Linked DNA regions of Homo sapiens: region 2 is linked to region 1. Evidence: fine-mapped expression QTL. Tissue or cell type: whole blood. Region 1 holds a variant in brackets; the other region holds the start of a gene. All regions are shown on one strand. Distances are between the middles of the regions.

Region 1 (8,102 bases):
TCTGTTTAGGGCCTAGAGCCAGAGGTAAGGTATTTTTTCAGGTTTCCTTAAATCAACTAGACAGGAACTTTATGTCATGAGTGTCTACAGTGTGCGCTGGCTGCTACAGGGACCAAGCAGTCTGTGAAAGTCAGTTTGTATACCTGTGGACCAGCTGGGAACCTAGAGTGGACACAGAGAATGTTGGAGGTGAAAAGAGTCTTGGAGATTATTTAGTCCTACCCTCCCATTTTCCGGATGGAAACCTGGAGGCCCAGTAGGTAAAATGATGTGTCCGAGGTCACTTGGCTAGTTAGTGATGGGACCAAAACCAGCATCCAGGTCTCTGAACTGCATCACCTTGCAAGAGAGTGGTCCTCACAATTTACTGTGTATCAGAATGACCCAGGGAGCTTGTTAGAAAGCACATCCCCAGAGCATGTTCTCAGAGATTCTGATTTAATAGTGGGTTAGAGAATATGGGTTCTTAGCAAACACCTCAGGGGAGTCTGAGGAAGGTGGTCGCCACCGTCCTCTGAGATACACCTGCTATAGTGCAAAGAACATTTGACTTCTTAGACTGATGGAAAAGCTCATTGCATTTCCTGAAGCCTCATCAGTAGCAGTGAGCAGAACAGGCAGAGATGCAAACAGCTTTAAAGATGAGAGCATGAGGGATTAAACCCAGGCTTTAAAATGCATTGCAAGTAAGTGGTATGTCAGGAGACTTGACATGTACATGCAATTTCAATGTGGCGCAGTCCTGGACAACCTCTAGGTCACACACGACTCAGTGTATCTATCTATAAAATGGTGATGATGATGGTGGAAGGTAATAACCTGCACTACTACATTGTCACGAGGATTAAATGATGTGATGCACGAGAAGTACTTTGCCTAGCACTTGGTAAATGGCAGCTTCTCTGATGATGCATAATTGCTGGGGGTGGATGAGGGCAGGTTTCTGTTTAATGCCTTTACATAATGGACTTCTGCTGAGGGTTTCATTTGAAGAAAGGGGTTCTGGTTCTGTAGCTAAAGAAAGTGTACAGACCCTTCCATCCCTGGGGGACTAGGATGCAGCAGGCTGTTTCTGCAGAGGGCTCATCCTGGTTTGTGCCTAGAACAGTGGTGCCTTTCTCTGGTCCTGACCGGCTCCCCCAGCCCCCACCTATATCCCTGGAAGATTTCAATGATCAGACCAAACAGGGACTGTTTCTCTCCATTTTCTAGAAGTAGAGATTGAGGCCCTCGGGAGGCGAAAGGAAGCTGGTTATGGGACCCCTAAAAGCTCTTGCCCCCTTCCCCTGATTGTTAGATTTGGGGCTGAGGCTACCAGCCCCAGCTGGCCTGAGGTCCTTCCCTGCACTGCCTTCTAGGAGCTGGGCCTGCAGGGAACCAGGAAGCTGGTGTCTTGGCCAGGGTGTGCCACTTCCTGGTTCTGGCCAGTTTTGCTGCAAGTCAGGTCAGCCTGACCTTACCAATGCTGTAAAACCCATTCTGGGTGCAGATGGGGGAAGAGAGGGATCCCAGGGCCTCATCTGGCCCTGCTATCAGCCTAATGAAGGGGGTGGCTTGGAGGGTGGGCTGTGGGAGGGCTGAGGGTGCTGTCAGTGCGCACTAGCGAGTGTGTATAGAAGAGTGACTGTAATTTTAAAAACATAGCTTCAGAGTTGGGCGAAGAGGGGAGTAGTACATTGAGTGCCTGGGCTGTGTGGGACGGTTCAAAAAAAATCCTAAAGTGTTGTCTGTGTCCTATGGCTGCGAGGGCCTGGGAGGAGCATGTGGCACTGTGCAAGTGAATGGGGTTGAGTGAGCTGGTGTGTGTGGCAGTGAGTGGGAGCCTGTTAGCACATGCAGGCATGTGAGCTGTGTGCTGGCATGTGCTGCTGTATGTGCCCATACAAGGAGAGAGCACTGGCCAGGAGTCTCACGATCTGGGTTCGAATCCCAGTGCTGCAGCCACTGGGCTCTCTGACCTCTGGCAACATGCACCATGTGGAAGTGAAAACATGAGGTTTCTCCTGCCTCCCTAACCGTGGCAGCTCCAGAGTATACGTGTGGGCACGTGGGTATGTGGATGGGCAGGAGAGGGGACCTGGGCAGCTGGGCTCTGGGCGCCCCTGACTGTGCAAGGGGATCGCTGCTGCTACACAGGCGGAGCAGGGGCTGAGGCCGGGTGGAGGGAGCAGTCTGTGGTTGGGGGGGTGCAGCTGGCCCAGCAGTGAGTGGCTCTAAATTATCCCATCTGCTGTCTGGGCTGGGCCCTTCTCACTCTGGGTGGAATTTCTGATGGTGTCCCGGCTGCCTGAGGCGGGCGGCCTCCCAGCCGCAGCTGCTGCCTGCTCTTTTGAAGCTCAGCCCTGGGCCAGCCACCCCTCCCTCCCAGCCTCTGTTCCTCTGTCCTGGGCCTACATTCCTCAGCTGCCAGAGAAGGCATTTCTGAGAGGGCCACTCTGCCTGTGCTCCTGCTGCCCAGAGCCCATGGAGCCCCTCCCTTGGGGGACAGGCCCCTTCAAGCCACCTCCTTCCCCTGGTTAGGAGTGGGCACCCTGCATTATTCCAATCACTTCTCCTACCCTTGGAAGCTTAGCTGGAGGGCAGGGTATGGGCAGGAATGGGCACAGGGCTGCTGGCCCAGCTCCCTGCTCCTCCCTTGGGGTCCCTGAGCCCTCTCAGCCTGAGGTCCTGGAGGTCCCTGAGTGGGGAGGCCTTTGTGCTCCACATTCACTCCCTTCAGGGCTGGATTCCCAGGCCAGACGCCTGGGCCAGACTCTAGAATCAGCCCCTTGGAACTATGTGGCCTTGGGGTGTGAATGGCCCGTGCTCATAGAGTCTTACTAACAGCTGCCTCTGACTGACAGCTTCCCTTGTGGGGTGCTGTGCATGCCCACCACAGTCAATCCCCTGCAGGAGCGCCATCTGAGAAGGTATATGTATCCCCATATTACAGATTGCTCAGAGCAATCCTGCTTGCCCCATAAGCTGCAGGATCAGGAGGTAAGCAGAGGACTGCCCAACTCCTGACCACTCAGGCTAAAGCCCCACTCCTGACCACTCGCTCCATGGCTTCCTACCCCAGACATAGCACCAGTAAACAACTTGTGGTCTCCCCTCCACCGGCAGCTTCCTGGCCAGACCCCCAGCCCTGTTGTGCCCCAACAGGCCCTCCACACTGTGGTTCTACCTCTGAAACAGCTATGCTATGAGCCAGCACTTTGTCCACTCGGCCCTCATTCCTTCCCTGCATCCCCAGCAGGAGGCAGGTGAGTCCCTGACCAAGGTTGGAGGGTGCACCATGGGGTGCAGTGACTGAAGAAAGCCTGCCTAAATGATCAGAGCAGGAAGGATTGGGTTGGGATTCTTAGGATTGAAAAGGTTTTAAAGCCCTGGAGGCTCTGGGGTTTGCTTTCTTAAGATTTTTTCTACCACAATTCAGTTTTTATTTTTTTAGACCTAGTCTCGCACTGTCGCCCAGGCTGGAGTGCAGTGGTGCAATCTCGGCTCATTGCAACCTCTGCATCCTGGTTTCAAGCGATTCTCCTGCTCCAGCCTCCTGAGTCGCTGAGATTACAGGCACCTGCCACCACGCCCAGCTAAGTTTTGTATTTTTAGTAGAG[T/A]CGGGGTTTCACCATGTTGGCCAGGCTGGTCTCAAACTCCTGACCTCGTGATTCACCCGCCTCAGCCTCCCAAAGTGCTGGGATTACAGGCGTGAGCTACCGCGCCTGGCCATAATTCAGGTTTTGTAAAATTTTGTTTTAATTAGAGAGTAAAGACATTCTAGAAAAACTTTTTTTTTTTTTTTTTTTCATTGAGACCAGGCTGGAGTGCAGTGGCACGGTCTTGGCTCACTGCAAGCTCCGCCTCCTGGGTTCACACCATTCTCCTGCCTCAGCCTCACGAGTAGCTGGGACTACAGGTGCCTGCCACCACACCCGGCTAATTTTTTGTATTTTTAGTAGAGACGGGGTTTCACCGTGTTAGCCAGAATGGTCTGAATCTCCCTACCTTGTGATCCACCTGCCTCGGCCTCCGAAAGTGCTGGGATTACAGGCGTGAGCCACTGCGCCCGGCTAGAAAAACTTTTAATTAGAGACACTATAGGTTGGAAGTTAAGAAGATCATGGACTCCGGGGCCAGACTGTTTGGATTCCAAATCGGGCTCTGCCACTGACTATGTGACCCTGTGTAAGTTATTTAATCTCTCTGAGCCTTAGTTTTCTTTTCTGTGAAATGGATGTATTCATTGCTGTACTGTGGGGATTTGATGAGATAATGCATGCCAAGTATATAGAAAATGCATGTACCTACCAAGTGCTCATAGACGTTTGCTATAATTATTATTAAATAGTAACTTATGTCTGCTGTAGATGATATAATATGCAAAAGACATGGCCAGGCGCGGTGGCTCATGCCTGTAATCCCAGCACTTTGGGAGGCCTAGGCAGGCAGATTATCAGAGGTCAGGAGTTCGAGACCAGCCTGGCCAACATGGTGAAACCCCATCTTTACTAAAAATACAAAAAATTAGTTTGGCATGGTGGCACGCACCTGTAGTCTCAGCTACTCTGGAGGCTGAGGCAGGAGAATCACTTGAACCCGGGAGGCAGAGGTTGCATAAGCTGAGATCACATCACTGCACTCCAGCCTGGATGACAGAGAGAGACTCCATCTCAAAAAAAAAAAAAAAAAAAAAGAAAGAAGAAAAAGATATAAAAATCACTGGCAATGCTATTACTTTAATGTTCTTAGTAATCCAATAATAATGGATTATTTGCATATTTTATTTTTAAATTAATAAATGAGTATCAATCAAAATTTTAGAGGTATACAAGAATCTGTAGTGGAAAAATTTCCTTGATCTATCTCTTATGACCCAGTTCTCCCCAGGGGAAACATATATTATCAGTTTCTTGTGAATCCTTTCGGATTTCATACACACACACACACACACACACACACACACACACACACACCCCATAATGCACTATAGTAGAGTGACTATACTCATTGTTTTGTACCTTGCATTGTTCCCTTAGGTCTTGGGCTAAAGAGACATATTGAAATCCCTCATTTTTGTTTGTTATTGAATAGCATTATATAGAGAGAGGAGGATGCTGATAATGTATCATATTTTCATCAGCCTGCTACGGGTAGACTTGTAGAGTGTTTCCAGTCTTCTGCTGTTAGACTATTACAAGGAATATCCTTATGCCCATACTCAACACAGTTGCAAACATATCATCTGTAGGTAAATTTCATAGAAGTGGAATTCCTGAATCAGTAGGTAGGTGCAAAGTGTGCCTTAGTGTGGAGGGCAAGGGCAGGGGTTGGGAGTTCTGTTTGCAGGACCCTCCTCTGCCCATCCTGAGCACTCCTTTCTAATCATGGGTTCCTTGACCCGGATTACCTGGGCATGTTCGGATGCTAAATTGTGGGGCATGGATTGCTGCCTGTCCGGGGACCCAGAGGTGTCTCCTGCTGCTGTCCAGACCTCAGAACTCAGCCTACTGGGGGGGCCTTCAGCCTGACTGCCTATAGGAGAAGCCCAGGGAGGAGCAGCTGACCCCTTTTCCCAAGAAGCTGGGCCTGGTCCAGTATGAGCTCATGCCTGGAGCCAACCCAGCTTCCTTGGCCCTGCACCTGAGTTACCAGTGGCCCCCTTCCTCCAGCGTGGGCCCTTTGACTTGGTAGCATGAACGCGCGTGTTCCTGCCAGCCCAGTGGGGTCCCCTAGAGCTGTGGCACCTGGGAGGGGAGGGGCAGGGGGACAGTAGCCCCCTTAATCCGCTGAGGTTTGATCTCCTCCCAGGCACCTGAGTCGAATATCTTGGCTGAGCTGGTGGCTTTTGTTTATGGAGTGAGGGACTGTTGTGGAAATAGTCCCCAGCCAGCCCAGGTTGTGGTGGAAAACAGTTGGTTGCTCAGGCAACTTGACAACTTCAGTAGGATGGGAAAAAGGTTTTGTGAGGAAACTGCCACTGTTTTGTCTTCTCCTTTGCTTCCTGGACATAAGCACCATCCCTTATACCTCCAGTGGCACCCAGGCACCCCCAGCCTCTCCAGGGGCAACCCTGTCCTTTAGTATTCAATTTAACTCACAGTTATTGAGTTCTTGCTGTGTGCCCAGCTCTGTGCTAGGCTCTAGGGAATATGGAATGGTGATCAAGCCCAATGGATACAGAGTGTTAAATCTGGAATCGGACCTTCTGGGTTCAAATTTCAGCTTGGCCACTTAGCTGTGTGACCTTGAACAAGTTACTCAACCCTTCTACGCCTCATTTTTCTACTATGAAGTGGAAATAGCAGTAGTAATATGCACCTTGTAGAGCTGTAGGGAGGATGAAGAGAGTTAACATGCAATAAGGCACTTTGAGTAGTGGCTAGCATATAAGGAAGCAGGCAATAAGTGTTATCTATTCTCATTATGACTATTATGACCATTATCTTGCTAAGATGAACCAAACAAATGACATGTTTCTCTGCTGAGAAGCCTCATCTTGGATCTTTTTCACTAGAAGGCAGAATTGGCTTCTTGATGGTGCCTTTTGTGGCAGCCACACCTGATATTTGGGCCTCAGGAGCAGAGATGAATGATGATGTCCTTAGGACTGAGGCTCTGGGACCAATTTGTCCACAAGGGACCTCATTCACCTTCTCTGAAACCTCTTGCCCTCGTCCCTGCCCCACATCTCCCATTGGCTACAGACTTGGCCACAAGTGTTGAGGCAGGAGAGAGAAAAATTAGAAAAGAAAAGGTCTTTTTTGAATCGTATTTTTTCTTTTGATTTTTTTTTGAGACAGAGTCTCACTCTTGCTCAGGCTGGAGTACAGTGGTGTGATCTTGGCTCACTGCAACCTCTGCCTCCTGGTTCAAGTGATTCAAGTGCCTCAGCCTCCCAAGTAGCTGGGATTACAGGCATGCGCCACCACACTGGGCTAATTTTTGTATTTTCAGTAGAGACAGGGTTTTACCATGTTGGCCAGGCTGGTCTCAAACTCCTGACCTCAGATGATCTGCCCGCCTCGGCCTCCCAAAGTGCTGGGATTACAGGCATGAGCCACCAAGCCTGGCCTTTCTTCTGATTTTTAAAGATTAAAAACAATTTTTAAAGGAATGCCCCACCCTTACAGATCTAAGTGATAGGGGTGGGGGTGGCCAAGGCATCATGCCATGCCCAGCCTGCACAGCTCATGGAGTAGCCTTTGGAAGGCAGGGGCTGCCCCCAGCCTCACCCCTGCCGGCAGCTCTGCTGTGTGGGCATGGAAACCAGGTGTCCTGCTTCTCTGGGTGGCAGTGGGGCTTCTTCCTGGCAAAGAGGTTTAGGAGTCCTTTTATCAAATCCTCATGGTTTGGTTTTGTTTTGTTTTTGAGACGGAGTCTTGCTCTGTCACCCAGGCTGGAGTGCAGTGGTACGATCTTGGCTCACTGCAACCTCCACCTCCCAGGTTCAAGCAATTCTCTGCCTCAGCCTCCCGAGTAGCTGGAATTACAGGCACCCACCACCATGCCTGGCTAATTTTTGTATTTTTAGTAGAGACGGTGTTTCACCATTTTGGCCAGGCTGGTCTTGAACTCCTGATCTCGTGATCCACCTGCCTTGGCCTCCCAAAGTGCTGGGATTACAGGCGTGAGCCACTGTGCCCTGCCAAATTCTCGTGTTTTACAGATGTAGAAGAGATGAGTGGTCCAGAGAAGTACCCAAGGTCACACAGCAGCGCATGACAGCATTGTCTGTCTCTCCCCTGCTCCTCCTCCTCCTCCCCTAAGGTCCAGTGGCCTCTTTTCTCCAATGGCTGTGCCCGAGGGTCCTCTTTGCCCTTCCTGGCTGCCTGGGGGTGGGCACAGGTGTGGCTGCCCAGCAGCTCTGGGGGCCTCGGGAATGAGGCTGGCTTTGTTGCAGCCCCGGCAGCTGTGGCCATTTGGGTCGAGTTTCCATTAAGCCTTTTCCGAGCCTTGGGCAGGAGCAGGAGGCTCAGCGTTTAAAGGTCACCCGGCTTTTGAAGCTGCAGCGACATTAATAGCTTGGGAAGAAAACAAGCCTTTGCAGGGGCAGGAGGACAAGGCGTCTCTGTCAGGGCTGCCTGAAACACACACACACACACACACACACATACCCTGAG
Region 2 (8,102 bases), 59 kb before region 1:
ATCTCTTGAGCCCAGGAGTTCGAGGTGGCAAGTTTCCTCTGAGTTCCTTGATTAAATTGGTCAGAGGAGAAAGGGTCAGGATTATCCAAATTATTTGGAAGTTTACACCACTTGCTTTTCTACCTCCAGCCTTCTTAAGCTGTCTTTGGTAGTCCTAGGAGGAGGAGTGGGTCTCACGGTGGCAGGGACAATGTGGTTGGTCGCAGAGCCGCAACTGTCTGCTCTCCTTATCAACCATTCATGCCCTGGCATTTGCCCTGGGCTGGGGGACCTTCAGAAGGGAAATGTCCTGTTTTCCCCACGGTCCGATCAGAGCTCACCATTTCCAAGCCTGAGCCCAGTGGCTCTCCATCAGCCTCATTCTCACAGTAGATAATGCCATATGCTCCAGCGATCTGAGCTTCATACAGCCACAGACTTAGCAAAAGGCTTCCATCACCTTCACATTCAGTCTGTGGAAACAGCAAGTGTTCTTGGCTGGTTTTGTTTGTTTGTTTGAGATTGAGTCTCGCTCTGTCACCCAGGCTGGAGTCAAGCACGATCTTGGCTCACTGCAACCTCCACCTCCCAGGTTCAAGCAATTTTCCTGCCTCAGCCTCCCAGGTAGCTGGGACCACAGGCGCCTGCCACCACGCCTGGCTAATTTTTGTATTTTTAGTAGAAATAGGGTTTTACCATGTTGGCCAGGCTGGTCTCGAACTCCTGGCCTCAAGTGATTCACCCGCCTCGGCCTCCCAAAGTGCTGGGACTACAGATGTGAGCCATGGTGACTGCCCTGTTCTTGGCTGGTTCTAGCCCGGGAGTGGGTGGGTGGCATGAGGACAGAAAATGGGAAGAGCTGGAATGGAAGTTAAGGGCAGCCTGGGAAGGGCCTCTCTCAGGAGTTTAAATTTCATTCTCCAAGCAATGGGAAGTCATCCACCTTGTTCAGCAGTGCAGAGACATCACCGGTTTGTACATTAGAAAAGTAACTGCTGGCACTGAAAAGGATGGATTGAAAGGCAGGGCCCTGGCAGCAGGGCCTGAGCCAGGGCAGAGGAGAGGGGGCAGGTTCCAGAGAAACTCAGAAGCAGAAAGCCCTGAGTTTACTGAGGGGGTTGAATGTACGAGGGGAGGAAGGCAGCATGTAACATCTGCAGCTTGAGCGAATGGGAGGTGCTGCTTATCCAGGACAGAGAATTCTTGCAAAGGATGTGGAGATGATGGGCTCCAGGCTCCCCGCACTGAAGGTGCAGTGGCTGTGGGACAGCTTGTCCAATGGCAGTAACACATGCCAGTCAGGGGCTTGAGAGAGGGAGTGGGGTGCTCGGACAGGTCATCAGCACACTCCACTAGGTGCAGAGGGGGTAATGTTATTAATAAAACTTGGCTGGGCACGGTGGTCCACGCCTGTAATCCCAGCACTTTGGGAGGCTGAGGTGGGCAGATCACCTGAGGTTGGGAGTTTGAGACCAGCCTGACCAACATGGAGAAACCCCGTCTCTACGAAAAATACAAAATTAGCTGGGCGTGGTGGTGCATGCCTGTAATCCCAGCTACTCGGGAGGCTGAGGCAGGAGAATCGCTTGAATCTGGGAGGTGGAGGTTGCAGTGAGCCAAGATCATGCCATTGCACTCCAGCCTGGGCAACAAGAGCGAAACTACGTCTCAAAAACAAAACAAAACAAAACAAACAGACAACAACCAAAAAAAAAAAAAAAAAAAATAGCCGGGTGCGGTGGCTCATGCCTGTAATTCCAGCACTTTGGTAGGCCATGGCGGGCGGAGGTCGGGAGTTTGAGACCAGCCTGGCCAACATGGTAAAACCTCATTTCTACTAAAAATAAAAAAATTAGCTGGGCATGGTGGCGTGCACCTGTAGTTCTAGCTACTCGGGAGGCTGAGTTGGAAGAATCGCTTGAACCTGGGAGGCAGAGGTTGCCGTGAGCCGAGATCGCGCCACTGTACTCCAAGCTGTACAACAAGAGCGAGACTCTGTCTTAAAAAAAAAAAAAAAAAAAAAAATATATATATATATATATATATATATATATATATATGCAGTCTGCAAGTGGAGCCATGAGGGGTTGGTACCTGCCCCACTCTATTCCCCCTGTGAGAACATCTGGAAAGAGGGGTTGGTTAGAAAGTTAGAGGACTCAGCCTTGGAGAAACCCCTGGGGCAGGCAGAGCTGAAGAAATGAGGGAATGGATAGAAAGACGCAGAGGCTAGGAAGCCATGAGGGTGGGAATGGTTTCAAGGAGGCGTTAGCAACATCCAGGGCTCCAATGGAGTGAAGGAATGGGATAGGGAGGAGGCCCATGGGTTGAAACAATGAGGAGCCTAAGGTTGCCTCCCTTGGAAAGGCATCTTCCCCTAGAAAGATGCCGGTGCCTCCCTGTAAAAATCACCTTCCCCTAGGATGAAGGGGAAGAAAGTCAGATTGTAGGAAGTTGAGGATTGAATAGGGCTTGAAGAAGCAGAGAGTGGGTCTGGTTGCTTCTTAGGGGAGGCCTACTGATGAATGCAGAAGAGAGAAACAGGGCAATGACTTGAGGGCAGGGCAGGGTTGGGGCCAGGTTCCCTTAGAAGGGGGTATCCTGAAGTGTTTGTAGTTTTGAAGCAGAGGGGAGGAGAAAGAAGAACTAACAGAGTTTCCTGAAGCACATAGGAGGTTGGGCTGGAAAGCAAAAGGGACATCTCTGGAAGAGCAGAGACAATAGGGCCTGAACCAGGCAGAAGTGGAGGAGTGAGGCGGTGAGAGAAGGAGAAATGAACAGGATCTGATAACCAGTGGAGGGCCAGGGAAGCTGCACAGGAGACAGAGGCTTCCAGCCTCTGAGCCAGAGGTGGATTCAGGAGAGTAGGAGGAGGTGGCTTAGGTAGGGAAGCGGTCTCAGTCGCCTTTAGCCTCCTTGAGTTTTAGGTGTCTGGGAGACTCACAGGTGGCCCTCTGTAGGCGGCTGGTGTGAGGGGCTGGAGCCCTGGGGGCTCAGAGGCAGTGGTGGGAGTGGGTGGAGGTGTCTGGGGGTGGGGAAGTTGTGAGAGGCAGGGAAGGGGTCTGAGAAAAAGCTTCCAGAAGGACAGACCCAAAAGGAGGAGTATGTTAGCAAAGCCCAAGAAAAGTGTGCTTCAAGGAAGAGTGTCCATTAGAGCAACTGGTTTTATTAATGACTATAATAATAATGTATTTAAAAATTTTACTAGCCGGGCGTGGTGGCACCCACCTGTAACCCCAGCTACTCAGGAGGCGTAGGCAGGAGAATTGCTTGAACCTGGGAGGCGGAGGTTGCAGTGAGTTGAGATCGTGCCACTGCACTCCAGCCTGGGTGACAGAGCGAAACTCCGTCTCAAAAAAAAAAAAATTATGAGCAATCCATAGGCGAGTGCAAATGGAAATCTCCAGGTTTGCAGATGCATTTTTCTGCTCCTGAAATGCCAAGGTGACAGGAATGAACTGCAGAGGGATCTTGCAAGTAAGCAGGAAAGTGACAAATGAACTGCACTATGGGTAAGTGTAAGGTAATACACTTGATAACATAATCTAGACTATATTGGCCAGGCGGACAAATCCTGAGCTCTCAGTTACAACCTGGGAAAGGAGCCAGGAGTCAGTATAGAGGCATGGGTCTGTCCCTTCGGATTAAGAATCTTTAACCTGGGGCCTGAAGACCATCTTCTGGGATTTCAAGCACCCTGCCTCCCCCGGAAATTGAATGCACCAGGGAGTGAAGTGTGGGGAGAGAGGAGCAGGAGAGAGGAGATCCTCAGAGGGGTTTGGAAACCCAGTCCTGGAGTTCCGTTCAACATGCTAACCTAACGTTGGGCCTCCCCGAGGAGGGTGTGGTTCTGAGGTTTCTCCCCCTCCCAGTTTCCCACCTTGCTGAAGAAACTTGCCCTTGACATGCAAATGATGGAAACACATTGGTGTCTGGGGCACTTTGGTTTGTGGTTTTTACCATCAGCTGTCTCTGAGGCTGAGCGTGTCGATCTGTCTCAGCAAGGCTAGCAAATTGCAAGCGCTCAGAGGAGGGGAGAGGGGGGCTATTCCTGGGGTTCTGGGCCCAGATGGGCAAATGGGTCTGTAAGGCAGACTTTTCCAGGAGGAGGGTGCAGACCCTTTGCAAGTTGTTTGGGGACAGAGCTTAGTTTGCATCTGGCCTTCTTCACCCTCCTCAGATCCCCTAGGTAGCAGGGTGCTTGGTGGTCACCACCTGACCTAGGCTACCTACTCCCAAATTGGAGTCTGAAATGAAAGCACGTGGGAAAAGTATAGCAAAGGTCAGTTTCCCATTTATTAAACAAGTTCTTCCGTGGAAAATCTTCCCAGGGCTCAGCAGCCCTTGAAGTGATCAGGGATGCTGGGGAGGTTGGGGGAGGAGAAAATGGGAGATGGCAGGTGGTATCTGTCGGTGTGGACGAGTGATAGCTTTGATTTGCTCCCCCTTCCCACCATCTCCTGTGTCCTCAGCATTTGATTTGGTTTCCTTTCCGGGGCCCTAATTCCAGGGAGGTGCCCCTCCTCCACACCTGTGTCCCAAGCCCCAGCTGTGCGTCCTCACCCTGGGTTCCTGGCACTGACCTGGAACCTGTCGGGCAGCCCTGCTCTTAGCTCCCCGCGGAGTCTCGGAGGTCTCAGGTCTCCTCCGCCCACCCTCTCCGCAGCTGGGAGGGGCAGGATGCCCCGCACCCCGCTCTGCGCGGGAGGTCGAGGCACCCCGCTCACGCCCTCCTGCCCGCAAGCTAGGGAGTCACTGCGGCCGGGGAGGGAGGTACACGGAGGGCATTTTTCCAGCCTTCACTGGGTGCTCCCCTCTCCACCCCCGGCAACCATGTAGGTTTCCGGACCCCCAGGTCCGCTTCCCTCCTCTCTGGAAAGGGGTCGGCCATAGGGAAAGGGCCCGGGGGCGCCGCAGCCGGGCCCCCGCCCCGCCCCGCCCGCAGCCCCGCTCCTCCCCGCGCGGCCCCACTTGTGGCCCTGCCGGCAGCCGCGCAGGGACAGCTGCATTTCTCGCCGCCCGCCGCTAGGAAGCCGGCCTCGCCTCACTTTCTCCGCCTCCCCGCGCCCCAGCCGCGCCGCCGCCGCCGAGCCTGGCCCCGCCGCCACCGCTGCGGATTGCAGCCCCTCCCCCGCCCGGCCCGCGGCCCGGCCCCTGCGGCCCGCGCGGAGCGGACGCGCGTGGCGCTGCCCGGTAAGACCCCCGCGCTCCCGCGGCTCCCGCCCGGCCCCGGGCGCGGTCCTCGCCGGCGCCCCGCGCGCAATCCCGGCCGCGGCCCCGGCCCAGCGGCCCCACCTTCTCGGGACCCGTTGCCCAGGCGCCGCCGGGAGGGCCGGGCCGTCGCGAGTTTGATTCCCGGGGCTGTCGGCGCGGCTCCCCGGGAGCTCCGCGTGCGGCAGGTCCCCGCCCGCCCTTCCTTCCCGAGCCCCCACCTCATCCCGGGCCCCGGGCGCGGGGGGCGTGCGGGCATCTGGGGGGCCGGGAGCGGGGCGCGCGATTAGACCGGGGGGCGCGGGCCAGCGCCGCAGGGAAGGGAGACGAGGCCTCCCGGAGCCGGCTTCGCCCGAGTCCCCTCTCCCGCCGCTCCCCCTTTTGTGTGGGCGCCCCTCCCCGCAGTGCCCGGGCCTGGGGGCGCAGGCTGGGCGGCGACGGCAGGCGGGGGCGCCTGCTGGGAGCCGAGCGCCTTTCAGGGGGAGGGGAGCTTCGCTTCCTGCCCCCCGCCGATGTCACAGGTCGGCTCAGCCTTTTTTGGTCCCTCCCGGTCCCCTGGGAGCTGTATCTCCCGTCAGCTCGGCCAGGGAAAGTTGGGAATGCGCTGTCCCCGCCCCTGCTCGCCCGCCCCGCCGGCTCCTGTGCCCCAGGCTCTGAGCTCCAAGGGGGGCTGGTGTCAGCGTTTATTCATTCCTCCCTCTTCCTTTTCTCGGTCGCGTGGTCGCCTTACACCCAGCACTGCCCTGCCCATTTCTTTTCCCCTTAAAAAAAGTTTTAGCTCTAAGAAACGTACACTGAAATTAAATTCCTGAGACGGAATGTGTTTTAAGGGGAGGGAGGGTTTAGATTTTCCTTTTTTTGGTGGAGTAGTGGAGTAGAAGATGAGGGGACTCCCTGGGAGTTTAGAAACAAGATGCCCTGGAGGCGATAGAGGATACAAGAAGACCATCCACCGTGCTCCCCACCTGATCCGCAGTCAGCGTCTTGTAGCGAGAGGAATGAGCCTTCCCTGGGTGATCCCGCAGCACCTGAGCCACCTGGCCCAGGAGAAAGGACTCAGGGAGATGTACTGGGCCTTTCACCCCTTTTCTTTATAGCCAGCTGTGCCTGAAGGAGGTGAGGGACCCCAGGAATTCTCTCACGGAGGAAGTCATCTCACCATGTGGTTGGGCCCCTGCTGGATCAAGTGTGAAGCTGGGTCCTCTCTGTTGTTGGGGGTCAGTGCCACTGGTACCTCAGTTTGAATATGGTGCCATCTCTGGGATGGAGAGGTGCTGCTGGGAGAAACCTGGCTCGGGTCTCCAGGAAGCTGGAGCGTGTGCAGCAGGGCTGGGTGTGAAACCCGCTGTCCACTTTCTGCAGCTGGAAGGGCCAGGACAAGGGAAACAGGATACTGCTACCGACCTGGGCACATCCTTGAATAGAAGAGAGACCCTGGACAGCGAGGATGGCCCAGGGATGTTGATATGACTAGGGCTGTATCCCCAGCTCCTGGGCCAGGCCAACTAGGGCCAGAGGTTGGAGTCATGGGCCCCTTTGAGAATCTGGTGAAAGCTCTAACTCCTCTCCTTCCAAAATGCATGTGTGTAGGGAGACACCTGTATTCAACACCAGACGGTTAATATACCCCCTTGGAACCAGGACCTCCATTGAGACCTCTGCCCTAGAGTTACTGGTCTGACCTGGGCCATCAGAACAGTTGTCACCTTTTTGGCTGGTCAGTGAATAATCCCAGGGTTCAAAGAGCAGACTGCTTCTAAGGTCTTTTCTCATGACCTCCCTATGCAACTTTGGGCTTGTGGCCATGGAGACCTGGAGTGTCTGGACAGATCCCAGCTCCCTACAGCTAGCTAGAGGATGGGGGCAGATGAGGTGGCCCTTTTCCAGGGGCTCATTTTGCTGTCTGTGTGGTGGGAAGGCCCTGGGCACTGGACTAGGCCCACTGGTCTATTGAATTAGAGGTAAATAAAGGGATTTGGGTGGAGGTGGATATTCTGGTGTTTCAGCTGGGTGTGAGATCCAGGCCTTTAAGAGCTCCAGCTTGTTCTTGGGGAAATGGGGTTGAGGTGCTTTAGTAGAGAGTGTTAAGTGTGAAAGACGACTCTTAAGGAGGTCTTGGGGCAGAATTGTCCAAGGCTATGATCTGGGTGTTGTCGGTTCCTTAGATCCCTTTGGACTCTTGAAGGCAAGTGGGGGCCAGAGGGCTGCTGTCACTATCCCCAGTGCAGCCCCAGGCCAGAGGAGGCCTGGCCTGCCTTTCCTTTCTTGGCTCACTGGGTCCTGGGCTGCTGCATAGGTGTTTGTGGCATCTACACTTGCTAGGGATCTGGAAGAGCTTTAGGACGATCTGCCATTTGTGACTTCTCTACCTTGGGACTGAGAAGACTTCCTTAGGCTCAAGTCCCCCACAGAGAGCTGTAGGGGATTTTTCTTTGTTTAACTAGAGAGCACAGTGTTTGGCATATGGCAGCACTCACACTGGTATTCTTCCTTTAGAGCTTCCTACATTTGCTCTGGTAATAAGCAGCAGAGGCAGGAGTATTCTAGAGCCTTGGGGCACAGGAAGCTGGGTGTCTGACAGGGGTCACCTCTGACTATCCAAGGTGAGCTGGAGGAGGTGGTGCTTCTGTGTTGCTGGCTCTTGCACTTACAGGAAGCAAGAGCTATAAAGGGCATTGGAGGCCGGATGCGGTGGCTCATGCCTGTAATCCCACCACTCTGGGAGGCCGAGGGGGGTGGATCACCTGAGGTCAGGAGTTTAAGACTAGTCTGGCCAACATGGTGAAACCCCGTCTCTACTAAAAATACAAAAATTTGCTGGGTGTGGTGGCGTGTGCCTGTAATCCCAGCTACTCAGGAGACTGAGGCAGGAGAATTGCTTGAACCTGGGAGGTGGAGGTTGCAGTGAGCCG

Evidence for each region. PIP is the estimated chance that this variant, and not a neighbour inherited with it, causes the effect.
Region 2: it holds the start of CUEDC1, and the variant in region 1 is fine-mapped to the expression of CUEDC1 in whole blood (TOPMed, PIP above 0.99).

Annotation. Positions count from the first base shown.
Region 1 is chr17:57,893,341-57,901,442 of GRCh38, reverse strand. The region is part of intron 1 of CUEDC1 (CUE domain containing 1); the gene reads left to right. Among named protein-coding and RNA genes, the nearest start is that of CUEDC1-AS1, 15 kb to the left of the region's middle. RefSeq lists enhancers at 907-1,577, 1,578-2,249 and a silencer at 2,181-2,475. The variant T/A (reference allele first, on the strand shown) is at 3,600.
Region 2 is chr17:57,952,295-57,960,396 of GRCh38, reverse strand. CUEDC1 (CUE domain containing 1) reads left to right here and starts at 4,985. Exons shown (of 11, transcript NM_001271875.2): 1 at 4,985-5,172. RefSeq lists a silencer at 5,061-5,130 and an enhancer at 7,419-7,920.